Homo sapiens: one gene and its partner. The protein of the gene in region 1 purifies or fractionates together with the protein of each later gene. This does not show direct contact. Each region holds a gene or a part of one and is shown on either strand. Other genes may lie near its edges.

Region 1 (3,825 bases):
GTGGGAAGAATTTGGGGGTGAGGTGAGAATAAAGCAGAGAAAGAGAACAAAGAGAGCAAATAAAAACCAAGCATTACCAGCATGTTATTCAGAAATACGGTGGGAAATTCCAAAAGAATGAATTAAAACCACTAAAAGTGGTTGCCTCTGGGGAAAGAAATGAAGAGGGGGACTTTTTTTTTTTTTTTAAACACAGCCTTTATAAATTATATGACCACTTCACAATTTAAACTGTGTATACAGGTTAAGAAAAAAACAAAAACCCAGAGCCCAAGCTCTTACTAACTAAACCTATGTTTTTCAAAATATAAGTTTATGACTCATTAGTGGGTTGAGAAATAATTCGGTAAGACATAGCCATTATTTTTTTAATGAATTCTAACAGAAGGGGATAGAAAATAAAAGACATTGCATACAGTTAAGAGTATTTTTTCATAACCTTTGAAATATACATATCCACATAAACAGGTTCATAATGTAAAATGTATTTTTAACTGTTGACTGTCAACAAAATAATATAACCACTCTAAACTACAATGCATTATAATTACTTTTAGTTTTGTTTTTCTTTTTTCTTTTTTTTTTTTTTTTTGAGACAGAGTCTCGCTCTGTCGCCAGGCTGGAGTGCAGTGACATGATCTCGGCTCACTGCCACCTACGCCTCCCGGGTTCAAGCATTCCCCTGCCTCAGCCTCCCGAGTAGCTGGGACTATAGTCACACACCACCACGCCAGGCTAATTTTTTGTATTTTAGTAGATATGGGGTTTCACAATGTTGGCCAGGATGATATCGATCTCCTGACCTCGTGATCTGCCTGCCTCAGGCTCCCAAAGTGCTGGGATTACAGGTGTGAGTCACTGAGTCACTGTGTCCGGCCTTATTCTTTGCTTTCTTACAATTAACTCTGTAATATGGGCAGAGAGAAGAATAACAACACAGAAAAGAGAATTCAAAGTCCCACAGGTGATTTTATAATGTGGAGTATTACTGCTTCTTAGGTGACTTATCTTTCTAATTATGTATGACTTTCACTAATATTTAAATTTCTGGTCTACAGAGACACAGGAGCCAAGGAACCATCCTAGAAGCCTTCAGAATGGCGGAGGAAGCCAGCTTAGAAATAAAAACTTGCAATATTTACAGACTGAATAGCCCTTATCTAAAATGCTTGGGACCAGAAGTGTTTTGGATTTTGAATTTTTCTTGAATTTGGAATATATGCATTATATACTTACCAACTGAGCATTCTTTTTTTTTTTTGAGACAGAGTTTCACTCTTGTTGCTCAGGCTAGAGTGCAATGGCTCGATCTCAGCTCACCGCAACCTCGGCCTCCTGGGTTCAAGTGATTCTCCTGCCTCTGCCTCCTAAGTAGCTGGGATTATAGGTGTGCACCACCACACTCGGCTAACTTTTGTATTTTTTTAGTGGAGACAGGGTTTCACCATGTTGGCCAGGCTGGTCTCGAACTCCTGACCTCAGGTGATCTGCCTGCCTTGGCCTCCCAAAGTGCTGGGATTACAGATGTGAGCCACTGTGTCTGGCCCCCAGGATTTGGAGCATTTTAGATTTCAGATGTTCAGACAGGGATACCGCTGGTGAATAAACTAAAAAATACATACAAAGTTTAGTAAGAGGAAGCTTTCTTCAACTGACCCTCCCTCACACGATTTGCAAGGTGTATTGTTCATCCTGCCATATGGAAAAAATGAACAGGAAGCTAAAAACTTTCATGCTCTTCTACCGAGAGCCCATATTTAGCCCAACATTTTATTTTTACACAGTAGGTTAGATATGCACTTTATTTTGGAGTCTTACCTTACAATTCACTTACATAAAATAATTAAGAACAAAAACTTCTGTAGAAAGCAAGTTCCACTATATTCTTTTCACAGCACAGCATCACTTCCTAAAAGTCACGGGGATCAGACCCGTAAGCCAACCACCTATATTTTAAAAACCACCACTACCATTCACACTGAATGTAAAAAAGAATGAGTAAGTCTTAATATGCTGATATTGAAAGATACCAAAGGGGGCCAGGCGTGGTGGCTCACGCCTGTAATCCCAGCACTTTGGGAGGCCGAGGCAGGCGGATTACAAGGTCAGGAGTTTGAGACCAGCCTGGCCAACATAGTGAAACCCCGTCTCTACTAAAAATACACAAAAAAATTAGCTGGGCGTGGTGGTGGCCGCCTGTAATCCCAGCTACTCGGGAGGCTGAGGCAGGAGAATCGCTTGAACCCAGGAGGCGGAGGTTGCAGTGAGCCGAGATCACGCCACTGCACTCCAGCCCAGGTGACAGTGCGAGACTCCATCTCAAAAAAAAAAAAAAAAAGAAAGCTACCAAAGATATTTCTTAAAAAATATATAAATACTTATTTGTGTATATAGTTGTATTAAAAATGCACATATATATCTGGAAAAAAAGGCATGAGAACTAAATGACAGTGGCTACCCATTTTCCGAGAGGTGAAGAGATGGGCAAAGTAGGGATGACAGCAGGGGTGAAGAGGAAGACATTTCACTGTGTATGTCACCCTTTTTAGCAAGTTAGGGATTCTCATTCCATTGCTCCCTTCACCCCACTCCATCCCTTCACCCACACCCACCCCACCCCCAAAACTGTCTTGCTGCTGCTGCTTTTTTTTTTTTTTTTGAGATGCAGTCTCACTCCGTTGCCCAGGCGAGAGTGCAGTAGCACGATCTCAGCTCACGGCAACCTCCATCGCCAAGGCTCAGGCGATTCTCCTGCCTTAGGCTCCTAGGCAACTGGGATTATAGGTATGTACCACTCGGCTAATTTTTATATTTTTAGGAGAGACAGGGTTTCATCGTGTTGGCCAGGGTGGTCTCAAACTCCTGGCCTCAAGAGATCCGCCCACCCTAGCCTCCCAAAGTGCTGGGATTACAGGTGTGAGCTACCTCACCCAGCCCAGAACTACCTTGCTTCTGAATGGTACTCCACCCCCTCACCTCACACACATACAAGCACCCAGAAGCAATGTGTTGCAGGTATGCTTTCACTTTCATTGGCAAAGGACTCTCTCCTCGTCTTGCAAAAGTGAACCTATGCTCTCAGCATCCATAAGACCACACAAACACCACCTGTCTTGGCAAGTTGACAGGACCTTGGGTAGCATCCACAGCCCCTCCTCAATGCTCCCATCACATTTGCTAAGCCCTTGCTAAGTGCCAGTATGCAGGAGCATGAGGTACAAAGAGAAGTAGGATAAGGTACCTACCTGCCTTCAAGCAGTTCACAGCCTCCAGGGAGAGAAAGAGGAAACAGAGAATTTTGAAATTATGTGGTTCATGAAATGGCAAAAGTATACACCAGCGTAATTTACCACGTTGTATTTTAACTACTTTTTCCTCTCTCTCCTCCTTCTCTCCAAGGTGAGTGACTCTGGTGTAGGTACTGGATCCACAAGTATCTTTGAATCCCCTATGCTGAGCATGGTACTGAAATGATCTGAACTTCATAAATGTCTCCTGGAGAGCAATGCAATGGTATTTTAAGAAACAAATCCATGTGTCTTAATGTTTCAGAATGGTGATCAGTATACATATCAACTACTAACCTGGACCTATGCAATGTATTACAATACTAGAATTTCAGCAACAAAACAAACATCTTTAACCTCAGAGATCCTCTGATCTTTTAGTCCTAGCTACACAGTCTTGGCTTTGGTTTTGTAAAATGGGGAAACAATGAAAGCTGACCCCATCTGTTTTTTTTTTTTTTCCCTGGACGTCAATGCATTCTCACTTGTTTTTACTGGTAAGACTGAAAACTTTCACCCACTAACCTTCAATTTCTAT
Region 2 (3,825 bases), on another chromosome or scaffold:
TTAAAAACTAATTTTGAAGCACACATACAGATTGTCACCTATGAAATAATGACAATTAAGATTTTTTTAAAACATCAATACAGATACAGTCTACTAACTTTCTATTGTTTTTGTCTGAGGTTCAACAGAGGAAAGGAGGTAATCAAGAAAATACGTCAAGAAAATGTTCAAAACACTAAGTTCTGGAAGAATGCAGAACAGACATAGGCTAATTCAAGCAAGTCAGTGTGCCAGAATTGCTTTAAGAAGTTAAAGTAATTGAGAAAATACAAAAGAAACGCCATTCTTTTTTAATACCTTCTGTTTCAATTCAGACAAGATGCATCCTAAAACTCGAAATTTTCCAGAATCTAAAATCAAGTCCATGTCTAACTGAAAGTTATTAATGTGTCGGTACTGTTTACAAAGTACATGTAGTTCGAAGTCTGTCATAACTTCCATATCTTCAAAGATCAGGTCAGGGTTAGCCTCACAATGTGTAGGTTCCTTAAAACAAAACAAAACACAGTATACTTCAAAATAAAAATAATTAATAATATGATGAGAAAAGTTTAATAAAACTGTTTATACCTGATAAAATATCTAAATCATAGAACCTTTTAGTGTAACAGACTTATCAAGGAAAATTAGTATTAATCTTTTAGGTATAATAAAGGGGGAGAAGTCCTTACTGTTTGAGAGATAACATACTAAAATATTTACAGATGAAATAACATCTAGAACTTGGTTCAAAATAACCCTGGGGAGAAGTCTGGGGTATAGATGAAACAAGGGTGGTGTTATTATCAAATGGTAACTTTCAAAGGGGTGAAGTAACATATGGGCAGTTTCATTATGCAATTCTACTTTTATAAATGTTTGAAATTCTCCATAAGTTTAAAATAATAAAAAAAAATTTAAAAAGAAATGGGTTGGTCAGGTGCAGTGGCTCACGCCTATAATCCCAGCACTTTGGGAAGCCGAGGTGGGTAAATCACCTAAGGTCAGGAGTTCGAGACCAGCCTGGCCAACGTGGTGAAACCCCATCTCTACTAAAAATACAAAAATTAGCTGGGCGTAGTGGTAGGTGCCTGTAATCCCAGCTACTCAGGATGCTGAGGCAGGACAATCACTTGAACCTGGGAGGCGGAGGGTGCAGTGAGCAGAGATCATGCCATCGCACTCCAGCCTGGGCGACAAGAGCAAAAGTCTATCTCAAAAAAAAAAGTAAAGAAAAGGAAGAAAATGGGTTGCTTTCAACCAAAGATCAGTAAGGATAAATAAGGTTAAAATGTTAAAGGAGAAAGAGGCAAAAATAAAGAGTAATTGCTAAAATTATAAAGAAATAAAATGAAAAAGAAGTGCATTATGGAAGTCTAGACTAGGAGTTAGCAAACTGTTCCTGTAAAGGGCCAGATCATATTTTAGGCTTTGTAGGCAAAATGACCTGTAAGGCAAGTACTCAACTCTGCCCCTGTAGTGAGAAAGCAGTCCCAGAAAACAAAAACAGGCATGACTGTGTTATAGTAAAACCTTATTTATAAAAATAGTCACTGCCGTAAGGCCATAGTTTGCTGACTTATAATGTAGGTTATCAGTCCTTCTTTGTTTTTATGTCCCCCAGATCATTTTGAACTTAGTCTAAAATGTGTTTTTCGTGTTTCAGTGCAGTGACTGATGCCTGTAATTCCAGCACTTTGGGAGGCCAAGGCGGGCGAATCGCTTGAGCTCAGGAGTTCAAGACCAGCCTGGGCAACATGGCAAAACCCCATCCGTACAAAAAAATTAGCCGGGCATGGTGGTGCGTGCCTGTAGTCCCAGCTATTCAGCAGGCCAACGCAGGAGGATGGCTTAAGCCTAGGAGGCAGAAGTTGCAGTGAGCCCAGACTGCCTGCCTTGGCAACAGAACCAGACCTGGTCTGAAAAAAAAAAGTTTTTCTTAAATATGTAGTTAAAGGTTTAGTATGCCCATTGGGTTCACCAATCTTATAGCCTAACAACTTAACCTCTTATTAAAGCTTAGTGTTAACATAATATGAAATCCTTACCTTTAGCATAAGCTGAGACATTTCCTTGAGTTTTTCAGCTGTGTAATATTGGCGATGTAATAAAGGATGATTGGCCATTTTCCTCAACTGCATCATGACATTGCACATTTCTGTGTTTTTTTCTGTGACTCAAAGAGAACACAGTAAAAAATAAAACCAAGCGGATAACTGTTGAAATATATCAACTAAGTTTTAAAATTATTTCCTCAAATTCCAGATAATTTTTTAAAATGCACAAATCCCATTATATGACTAAACAAAATGCATCCCCAGTACAAGATTCTTTTTCACATAAAAGAGTAAAAATCAGATTATACCCAAGTTATTGATAGATTTTTTCAATCTGTTGAAAAGACCCAAATAGAGTTGCTCCTGCTTCTCCGACATTGCACACAACTCAATTCGATCTTTCTTGGGGGGTAACTGCTTGAGAACCTGAGACAGAAAAAACAGTTTAAGATAATCATTCTAGTAAAGAGAAAAACCTAAGTTTTAAAAACAATAAAAATAAAAAACATGTAGATATGCATTACCTCTTCTTTTACTCTTCTGAGAATAAATGGCTTTATAATTTGTTTTGCATGTGCTATTCTCTCCTTTTCATATATGCTTTGCTCATCTGCTGATTTCTGAGCAAAATAAAAACATATCCTTTTAGGAATTATTCACTTAAATTATTGCAATAACAGTATTATTACACAACATAAAAATCTCCCTCATTAGAGTCTGAGTTATTTTCTGCAGAAACTTGATTCATTCTAGATGGCACTTCACATCTGAATTCTGGGCTGCCATGTACTTCTTGAAGCTCCATATGTATTTTGAAGTTTTATGATACGTAATCATGTTCTCTACTGAAGTAATCAATTTGAACTGTACCAGATGGGTGTTCAGAAGTCATCAACTGATGAGTCATGTATCGATTACCTAGATAACTCTCATTGAAAAATGTGTCTAAGTGTGGGTAAGGAGGAGCGTGGGGGGTAGAAAATCCTTTATTTCTTTGTGGAAAATGGCCCCAAAAGGAAGCTAGTGCAGACTGATGCAAATCACTTGGTCTAAAAATGGGGAATAGTGCTTAGTCAGAACTGGTGACTCTGGAGAATTAAGAAGTAGAATTTTATTCTAGGATGTGAAGGAGTCCTCCATATATTATGAACTGAAGATAGAAAATGGTTCATAAAATCTGCTAGGCCATTTAAAACACTGTACATTAAGTGGGAGGGAATTCAAATTAGTAAATGTTTAAAAGGCAGTTAATTTGCAGTGGACGAGTATCACAGAAAATTCTTGCAAAAGATTAGTGATGTGGAAGAGAGCCAAGAATCAGTGTAAACACTGCGGTATTGAAAAAACTGGGAGTTCTTGAAGACTATACTTTTCCTAAACAATAAAGAAGTAACAAAACTTTTCTTGTGAAGAGGATTTCTTTACTGTCGCTTTTAGTTGTGACTTTGGTTTTATGAACTTTTATTTCAGAATATATTTCTCAGCATAGGCATTTTCTGGATATTCTAGCTTTGTCTAGTTTTATAGTTTACCCATAAAGAAATGTTACTAATTTACGTAGCCAATTTTGATACAGATGATGTAATGATCAAACTTTCCGCACATACTATATATCTGAGCTCTTCATCAATTTAAAATCGTCATCCTTCAGAAAATTAGGATATTAACCAAGACTTCTGGCCATTGATTAGGGAAATTGCTATTTTCTTTCCCATTATATTTTGGCTGGTTTCCAAACCAATCCAAATATAGAGTTATCACCTACTTAAAGTTACTTCATAGAGCATAT

What was found.
Region 2: the proteins of KIF13A (region 1) and SMARCAD1 fractionate together in Homo sapiens (co-fractionation; one large-scale study listed by BioGRID). This does not show direct contact.

What each region holds. Positions count from the first base shown.
Region 1 is NC_000006.12:17,980,852-17,984,676, forward strand, and holds part of KIF13A (kinesin-like protein KIF13A), read right to left. Parts: intron 1-3,825. UniProt on the Homo sapiens protein: Plus end-directed microtubule-dependent motor protein involved in intracellular transport and regulating various processes such as mannose-6-phosphate receptor (M6PR) transport to the plasma membrane, endosomal sorting during melanosome biogenesis and cytokinesis.
Region 2 is NC_000004.12:94,277,253-94,281,077, reverse strand, and holds part of SMARCAD1 (SWI/SNF-related matrix-associated actin-dependent regulator of chromatin subfamily A containing DEAD/H box 1), read right to left. Parts: intron 2,657-3,825; coding exon 2,561-2,656; intron 2,463-2,560; coding exon 2,345-2,462; exon of another isoform or gene 2,156-2,344; coding exon of another isoform or gene 2,150-2,155; coding exon 2,028-2,149; intron 487-2,027; coding exon 298-486; intron 1-297. UniProt on the Homo sapiens protein: DNA helicase that possesses intrinsic ATP-dependent nucleosome-remodeling activity and is both required for DNA repair and heterochromatin organization.